2 linked regions of the Homo sapiens genome follow. The protein of the gene in region 1 interacts with the protein of each later gene in a pairwise test. Each region holds a gene or a part of one and is shown in the gene's direction. Other genes may lie near its edges. The genes, in order: TMEM130 and GRM2.

Evidence for each region.
Region 2: the proteins of TMEM130 (region 1) and GRM2 interact in binary tests that used the Homo sapiens proteins (3 or more experiments, as listed by UniProt).

Annotation. Positions count from the first base shown.
Region 1 is NC_000007.14:98,866,925-98,871,273, reverse strand, and holds the start of TMEM130 (transmembrane protein 130 isoform b precursor), read left to right. Parts: upstream 1-1,259; 5' UTR 1,260-1,412; coding exon 1,413-1,497; intron 1,498-4,349.
Region 2 is NC_000003.12:51,713,487-51,717,290, forward strand, and holds part of GRM2 (metabotropic glutamate receptor 2 isoform a precursor), read left to right. Parts: intron 1-477; coding exon of another isoform or gene 478-497; exon of another isoform or gene 498-538; coding exon of another isoform or gene 539-635; exon of another isoform or gene 636-1,575; coding exon 1,576-2,651; intron 2,652-3,804. UniProt on the Homo sapiens protein: Dimeric G protein-coupled receptor which is activated by the excitatory neurotransmitter L-glutamate. Plays critical roles in modulating synaptic transmission and neuronal excitability.

The DNA of each region.
Region 1 (4,349 bases):
ACGGGCCAGAGAGGAGGTCAAAGGCCCTCACTGTGTGGGAGGATCCCTCGCCCAGGTAGCCGTAGCAAAGCGGAAGCATAGCTGGGACCAGAACCCACCGGGCTTCCAGCGTTTAAGGCCAGCCAGGCCCCTCCAGCTTCTAGGAGAGCCCAGCCCTGCTCCTCTAAGGCAAATGGCAGTAACTGTGTAGGCTGGTCACCCCTCACCGCAGTAGCCTGACTCCCACAAGGCCCTCAGTGACAAAGAAGTTGCCCTGGGCCCAGATACGAGCAGGAGCCCCATCTTAACAGCAGCTGTGAGAGGGTAAACCGGGGGATGACATCAAGCCCACGGCAGGGGCCGGGTGCTCAGGCCCCTCTATCAAGAAGGGGCAAGAGGCTGGGCACAGTGGCTTACACCTGTAATCCCAACATTTTGGGAGGCTGAGGCGAGAGGATCACTTGAGGCCAGGAGTTTGAGACCAACCTGGCCAACATGGTGAAACCCCGTCTCTACTAAAAATACAAAAATTAGCCAGGCCTGGTGGCGGGCACCTGTAATCCCATCTTACTAGGGAGGCTGAGGCAGGAGAATCGCTTGAACCCGGGAGGCGGAGGTTGCAGTGAGCCGAGATCGCGCCATTCTGGGACAGAGCGAGACTCTGTCTCAAGATTAAAAAAAAAAAAAAAAGAAAAGAGGAAGCAGCAGCAGCAGCAGCAGCAAGAGGAATTTCGAGGCCTTTCGCCCAACGCCTGGCGCACCTTAAGCTCTCAACAGTTCTTGAATGAGGAGTAGCATCTCGGAGCCACGAGCGTGCAGAGAGAAGGCACCTGGAGGAGAGCCCCAAGGGACCTGCAGGCGGCTTGCAGCGCAGCGCACGCCCCTGGGGACGCTGAGTCAGAGCCGGCGGCATCGGATCCAGGGCGGGGAGGGGCTCGGGGGAAGGGAAAAATGCGGGTGCGGGGGGCGTGGTTTCGGGTAGTGGAGGGGAAGGATGCGGCCGGGGGTGGATTTGGGGTGGGGAGGGATGCGGGGAGGAGCCAGGGCGCAGGAAGGGAGCTCTGGAACCCCTAGAGGGGAAGCAAGCTGGGAGGGGCGATCGTGGACTCCAGGAGGGCAGGGGGCGCGGCCGTGGGAAGAGACCCGGAGAGGGAGGACGCGGCCGTGGAGAGGGACGCGGGAGCAAGGGGCGGCGGGAGGAGGAGGAGGGCGCGCGGCGCGGCTGACGTGGGCCGGGGTCGCGCAGCGGGCTGTGGGCGGCGGCGGCGGCGCGCAGCGACAGAGCGTCCCCCGGCGAGGACGAGCGAGCACGGCGCCCGCACCTCCCCGCACCGCCCGCGCTGCGCGCCCGGAGGAGCGACCGCCGCAGTTCTCGAGCTCCAGCTGCATTCCCTCCGCGTCCGCCCCACGCTTCTCCCGCTCCGGGCCCCGCAATGGCCCAGGCAGTGTGGTCGCGCCTCGGCCGCATCCTCTGGCTTGCCTGCCTCCTGCCCTGGGCCCCGGCAGGGGTGGCCGCAGGTAAGGCGCTGGGCAATCCGGCCTCCCTGCAGCCGCAGCCCGCCCGGGGCCTGGAACCGTCTCAGCGGGCGAGTGGGCCCGGGAGCAGGGATTGCGGAGGTGGCACCGTGCGCCCTGCGCGCATCTCCCTCCTCGGCTGAGGCCACTGCAGCGCCCTTTCCCCTCTCCTTTCATCCTTGTTCCCCAAAGTCGCCTGGGCACTGGAGGGGGCTCCCCGCACCCCCTGGATTCCTGCTTCCACCCCCCCAGGCTGGCCCTGCCCTGGAAACCGCGCGGGGGTGGCCGGCGCATCCGTCGATGCCTGGGGACCATGCACCCGCTAAGGGAGGGGAGGACGAGGCAGGGAGGCGGGGATGCGCCAGGGTCCGTCATCGCGCCACAATTCCCCAGTCCCCCAGGGAGCACGGGATGGGCAACGTTTTTGCCTTAAAATGTCGCCTCATCTAGAGGGGTTTCCCACCGTGTTGGTGCTGGCTTTGGGGAGATGCGAATTTAGAGCCCAGGAGGCCAGGCTGCCATTTCCTCTCTGGTGGTGATTTCCAAAATGGACCCGGAGCTGACAGGTTCCTGGGGTGTGTGTGTGGGTGGGGGAGTGGGGGAAGCAGGGTTGTGTGTCTACTGCCCCCACTTCCCCACCGCCAGAAAGCCAGCACCCACCTCTCTGCCACATTTTGGGAACCATAAAAGGACCCAGATTTAAGACTATTCGAGGGACAGATGGGACGTGGGCAGCTAAGAAGGTTGAATACTATCCACCACTTTTCACCCCCTCCCCCCTCATAAAAGAGCGGTGGAGAGAGAGAGCAAGGGATCTAATGAAAATTTGTGAAAGAAAAACCATGAGGTCAAAGAAAACCTGCAACTCAGGGATGAATTAGACGAATTTTATGGGAATTGCACTTGGACAAGATTACCTATTTCCTCCTGGAAATACAGGAAAGGGGTCTCTTGTCCATCAGGTTGATTTGTGTCAGAGATTTTCAATGTGTCCTAAATTGCAAAAGAAAAAGAAAATAATAACAAAAGTGAATTAATTATTTGGAAATCATGTGTGGTTCCCATTCTAGCCAATTGCACCCTTGATGTGGTCAAAATCACAGTGGCTAAGAGTGGAGTTGGGAAACATCTTCTCCCTCACCCGTCGGGGAGACTTTTCTACCCTTCCCCTTTCTGGAGTCCATGAATCAGGGATTTGTAAGTCAGAAGTCCATGTACTGGACTATTAATTAATTCTGGGTTGTGTTATCCAGACTTTAGAGGTACTCTTTGGAAGTGTTTTGGGTAGTCTGCATATTCTGTGTGAAAGGACTGGTGTAGCCATTTTCTAGAATGTTCAGGGCTGCACATGCTGTGTTGCTGGAAAAGGTAGGTGTTTCTTCCATGGGCCAAGCTTTGGGGTGAGTGCCCCATCTCTTTTTGCTTTTGCCCCTTGAGCTCTGGGTGACTTGGGGGGCCCTTGGAGTCCCCTAAACCTCTGCCTTGGCTGCTCCATACCCCAACTCCATGTCACATGGACTCCCAAACATGGAAAGATGAATTTGTTTGTTTGAGATGCAGTCTTGCTCTGTCACCCAGGCTGGAGTGCAGTGGCACAATCTTGGCTCACTGCAACCTCCACCTTCTGGGTTCAAGAAATTCTCCTGCCTCAGCCTCCCAAGTAGCTGGGATTACAGGCGCCTGCCACCACACCTGGCTAATTTTTGTATTTTTAGTAGAGATAGGGCTTCGCCATGTTGGCCAGGCTGGTCTCGAACCTCTGGCCTCAGGTGATCCACCTGTCTCAGCCTCCCAAAGTGCTGGGATTACAGGTGTGAGCCACCACGCCGGCCTGGAAAGATGAATTTGGTGGGTAGAGCACCAGGCCCTGTGATTGGTTCCTTCAGCCACATTTGGCAAAGGCTTCCTGGTCCATTTCCACCCTGGATGTCCTGGCCATCCCTGAGACCCCTGAGGAACAGGGGCAGCATCACCCAGGGGCTGTGACACACCTGATTTTGAAAAAACAGACTGAGAAAAAGTGTCCTTGGAGCTGGCAGGTGGTGGTGGGGGAGTCGGCGGGCTCCCATGAGCTGGGCCAGTGTCTGCAGCAATGTCTGCAGCAGACACAGCCCCTCCCTGCCCCCCATCCCCCCTCCCAGTCCCAGCTGGCTGCCCTCCTGATCCATTCCCCTGGCAACCGATCTGCGTGATAACATGCGTCTGTCTCACTGCAGATGCTGTTTGGCCATTAGCATGCAGCCGAATGTCCCTGCTACCTGCCAGCCTCGCTCAGGCCCACGCTTCTCAGCTGGGGTGGCAGGGAGGGGATGGGGAGGAGAGGGGTGCCAGGAGTTAGGGGGATAAGGGAGGAGGTGGTCTCTCATCCATGCACCTCTCTGTCCACAGCCTGGCCAAATGCTGCCTCCCAGCCAAAGTGGGGAGGGAGAGCAAAGCCCAACCAGGGTAGTACAGACTGGTTGGGTGGCCTCAGGCAGCAGCAGTGACCCATGCGGGCTTCAGGTCCCTCAATATCATATACCCACTCTGTTTGCGTGGAAAAGCTCCCATCACAGCTTCTGGATTTCCCTCTTTGGGGTTAAGACACTGCAGGTCCCCTTTTCAATGCCAGCATTCCCTTGGAAGTGACCAGCTCTCGGCATCTTGACTCAAATGACTTGATTTTTATTTATTTATTTTTGTAGAAAGGGTCTCTCACTTTGTTGCCCAGGCTGAAGGGCAGGGGCGCCATCATAGCTCACTGCAACTTCAAACCCCTGGGCTCAAGAGATCCTCCTGCCTCAGCCTTCCAAGTAGCTGGGGCAACAGGTGCACGCTACCATGCCTGGCTAATTTTTAAATTTTTTTTTTTGTAG
Region 2 (3,804 bases), on another chromosome or scaffold:
CGGCTGAGGTTCCACTTTCTTCCAGAGAGTAGACCTCTGGCCTGGTCCCGCCATTTTGAGGGTCTCTGGCTCCTCCTTGGGCCTTGCCCACTGTCTTCTGTCTCCTTATCTTGCCAAAGGTGGAGACCAGGAGACCTCAAGCCCATTCTCAGGCAGCACCAAGAGTTAGAATCAGTCTGGCTTGAGGGTGAGCATCAGGATGACGCTCTATATTCACGGAAAATGTCTTTCTGTCTTTCTTTTTTCTTTTCTTTCTTTTTTCTTTCTTTCTTTCTTTCTTTCTTTTCTTAGATGGGGTCTCACTATATTTTGTAGGCTGGAGTGCAGTGGTTATTCACAGGCACAATACAGCCTCCAACTCCTGGGCTCAAGCGATCCTTCTGCCTCAGTCTCCAGAGTAGCTAGGATGACAGGCATGTGGCACTGCTCCTAGCTTCAGGGAAAATTTCTATTCCTAATCTTGATTTTCCACTCAAGGTGACCTGAAAGTCTCCTGAAATCAAAAGTTATTTTAATAAGAGTGCCAGCTTTAAGAGAAATGACTGCTGCAGATCATCACTATGCTTCAGGAAGAATCACCGTGGGAACAGTGGGAGACAAAGCTTGGAAGCCCTGGCCCAGGGTTAAGATGAAGAGTACTTCCAATAGAACTGACATTCAGAGTTAGCTACAATCAGTGTAGGGGTTAGGGTTGGAATCTGGGGTCCGATTTGGTTGATGTTAGAGCAAGGCTAAATTCAGCATGTTTGGCTTGGGTGGAATTTATGGTAGGGCTAGAGTTGGATTTTGAGAACTTTTAGGCTGAGTAGAAAGAGTAGGTGCTTGAGGGGACCTGGGTTTGAATCTAGGCTGCACTATTCACTCATGGGGCCTTAAGCATGTCTTCTGCTTTCTTGAACCCTGATTTCTCACTGGGGCCAGGGATGGCTGTAAATCCTGGCTAGAGCCTGGCTGGGAGATGTGAGGTTTACAGGGGATGAAGTGGGGGTGGAGAGAGGAAGTGATTTTCCAGCCACTGACCACATTCTGGTGAATGGCAGTGGTTGCAGGTGACCAGTGAGGTTGGGATTCAGTTTGCACCAGGATGACTGTTAGGACTAGGGGTGCTGGAGCTGGGGTTGTTGTTAGGATTAGTGGGGACAGGATTGGAGCTGAGACTGGGTTTAGCCTTAGCATTGAGTTTGGGGAGAGGGCTGTAGTGTATGTTTCGATGAAGTTGGGATTTGGAGCCTGGGTTGGAAAGTGTTGGATAGTACTAAAGTTGAATTTGGGGAGTCATGGTTGGGGATTGATGTGGGCATTAGGTTTTTGGAGATGTCTGGGCTTTAAGGCTGGGATTACATTTGGCATTTAGGGTTGGGGTTTGATGTTGGAGTTTAGGAGTAAGACTTTGTTGTCATCTCTCATTTAGAAAAATGATTGGGGTCAAGGCAGGATTTAGTATTGGGTTAAGGATTGGAAGGGCTAATGGTGGTCTTAGCTCTGGCATTTGGGTTCCATGTTAGGGTGAATGTTGAGGTCACATCAGGGTAACACACTAGTCCAACCTTCTCTTCCTTCCCTCCCCCATCCTAGCCCCCTTTCGCCCAGCTGACACCCACAATGAGGTCCGCTTTGACCGCTTTGGTGATGGTATTGGCCGCTACAACATCTTCACCTATCTGCGTGCAGGCAGTGGGCGCTATCGCTACCAGAAGGTGGGCTACTGGGCAGAAGGCTTGACTCTGGACACCAGCCTCATCCCATGGGCCTCACCCTCAGCCGGCCCCCTGCCCGCCTCTCGCTGCAGTGAGCCCTGCCTCCAGAATGAGGTGAAGAGTGTGCAGCCGGGCGAAGTCTGCTGCTGGCTCTGCATTCCGTGCCAGCCCTATGAGTACCGATTGGACGAATTCACTTGCGCTGATTGTGGCCTGGGCTACTGGCCCAATGCCAGCCTGACTGGCTGCTTCGAACTGCCCCAGGAGTACATCCGCTGGGGCGATGCCTGGGCTGTGGGACCTGTCACCATCGCCTGCCTCGGTGCCCTGGCCACCCTCTTTGTGCTGGGTGTCTTTGTGCGGCACAATGCCACACCAGTGGTCAAGGCCTCAGGTCGGGAGCTCTGCTACATCCTGCTGGGTGGTGTCTTCCTCTGCTACTGCATGACCTTCATCTTCATTGCCAAGCCATCCACGGCAGTGTGTACCTTACGGCGTCTTGGTTTGGGCACTGCCTTCTCTGTCTGCTACTCAGCCCTGCTCACCAAGACCAACCGCATTGCACGCATCTTCGGTGGGGCCCGGGAGGGTGCCCAGCGGCCACGCTTCATCAGTCCTGCCTCACAGGTGGCCATCTGCCTGGCACTTATCTCGGGCCAGCTGCTCATCGTGGTCGCCTGGCTGGTGGTGGAGGCACCGGGCACAGGCAAGGAGACAGCCCCCGAACGGCGGGAGGTGGTGACACTGCGCTGCAACCACCGCGATGCAAGTATGTTGGGCTCGCTGGCCTACAATGTGCTCCTCATCGCGCTCTGCACGCTTTATGCCTTCAAGACTCGCAAGTGCCCCGAAAACTTCAACGAGGCCAAGTTCATTGGCTTCACCATGTACACCACCTGCATCATCTGGCTGGCATTCCTGCCCATCTTCTATGTCACCTCCAGTGACTACCGGGTGAGCTACCTGCCACAGAGGTCGGGGGAGATGGGACACCAGACCCTCTGTTTCCTGGTATCTTATTTAATCTACTGGTAGCTCTGGGGTTCCAAGAGGATAATGCCCACTCAGGGGACCACAGCTTGTGTGGATCCCAAGGGGAAGGTGGGAGGGCTGAATAGGACCTAGGGAAATGGCCAGGGAGGTGGGGAACTCGAGTTAGAGAGAGCTGAGATTTCAGGACTTGAATGTCATCCCCTATCCTGGAAGGTGATGGGGGTGCAGAAATATGTTCAAATGGACAGGGTTCTGCCCTGCTCCACTGAGGGGTCATCTGCAGAAGGGGTTGAGAGATGAAGCCAGGGAAGGCAGGAAAGATGAAGCAAGGTGGGTAGGGGAGGAGATCCAGGGTATAGAGTTGAGAAAAGCTAAAGCAGGTGAAAATTGTTCCCCAGTTGGTGGCTTCTGAGCAAATTTGGTTCCAACTGGCACTGTGTCTCAATGGGTCTCCCCAGCTCCAAGGGGCAATGGCTGCTTCAGATAGGGTGGTCAGGGAAGCCCTCTCTGAGGAGGTGACAGATGAGCTATGTTCTGAGTAAGAAGATTATCTTGGTTAATCTTCATAACTTGAGTAAGCTCCATGGCTCTCCCGTTTTACAGATGAAGAAACAGAGACTCAGGGAGGTTCAATCCCTTGCCCAAGGTCACTCAGCTTGGGAGTGCAGAGCAGGGTCTGAACTGCAGAAAAATTGAGGCGAAAGCCCCGGCAAAGGCCCCTTCCCCAGGACAGAGGTGTGGTGGCACAGTGCTGGGGGCCAGGGACCGCTGGGCTTGGCTGCTCTGCTTGCACCTGCTGGGCCACCTGCTTGGGTGGTAGAGGCCAGGGCTGGGGAGGGATTCTGCTCTGACTCAGCCTGCATTTGCATATGATTTGCATTTGCATGCCAATCACAGGCAGCTAAGGACTCACCTGAGACACACACCGTACCCACACATGCATGCACACACACACACACACTTGTACACACAGACATAGCCACATGCATGCATGCACACACACATATCCCACATACACACACTCGCTGGCACACACACATATATCTTCCTGACAAATGAATCCATACCCATGCACCCTACACTCACGCACACATACACTCACGCAGACACCTGC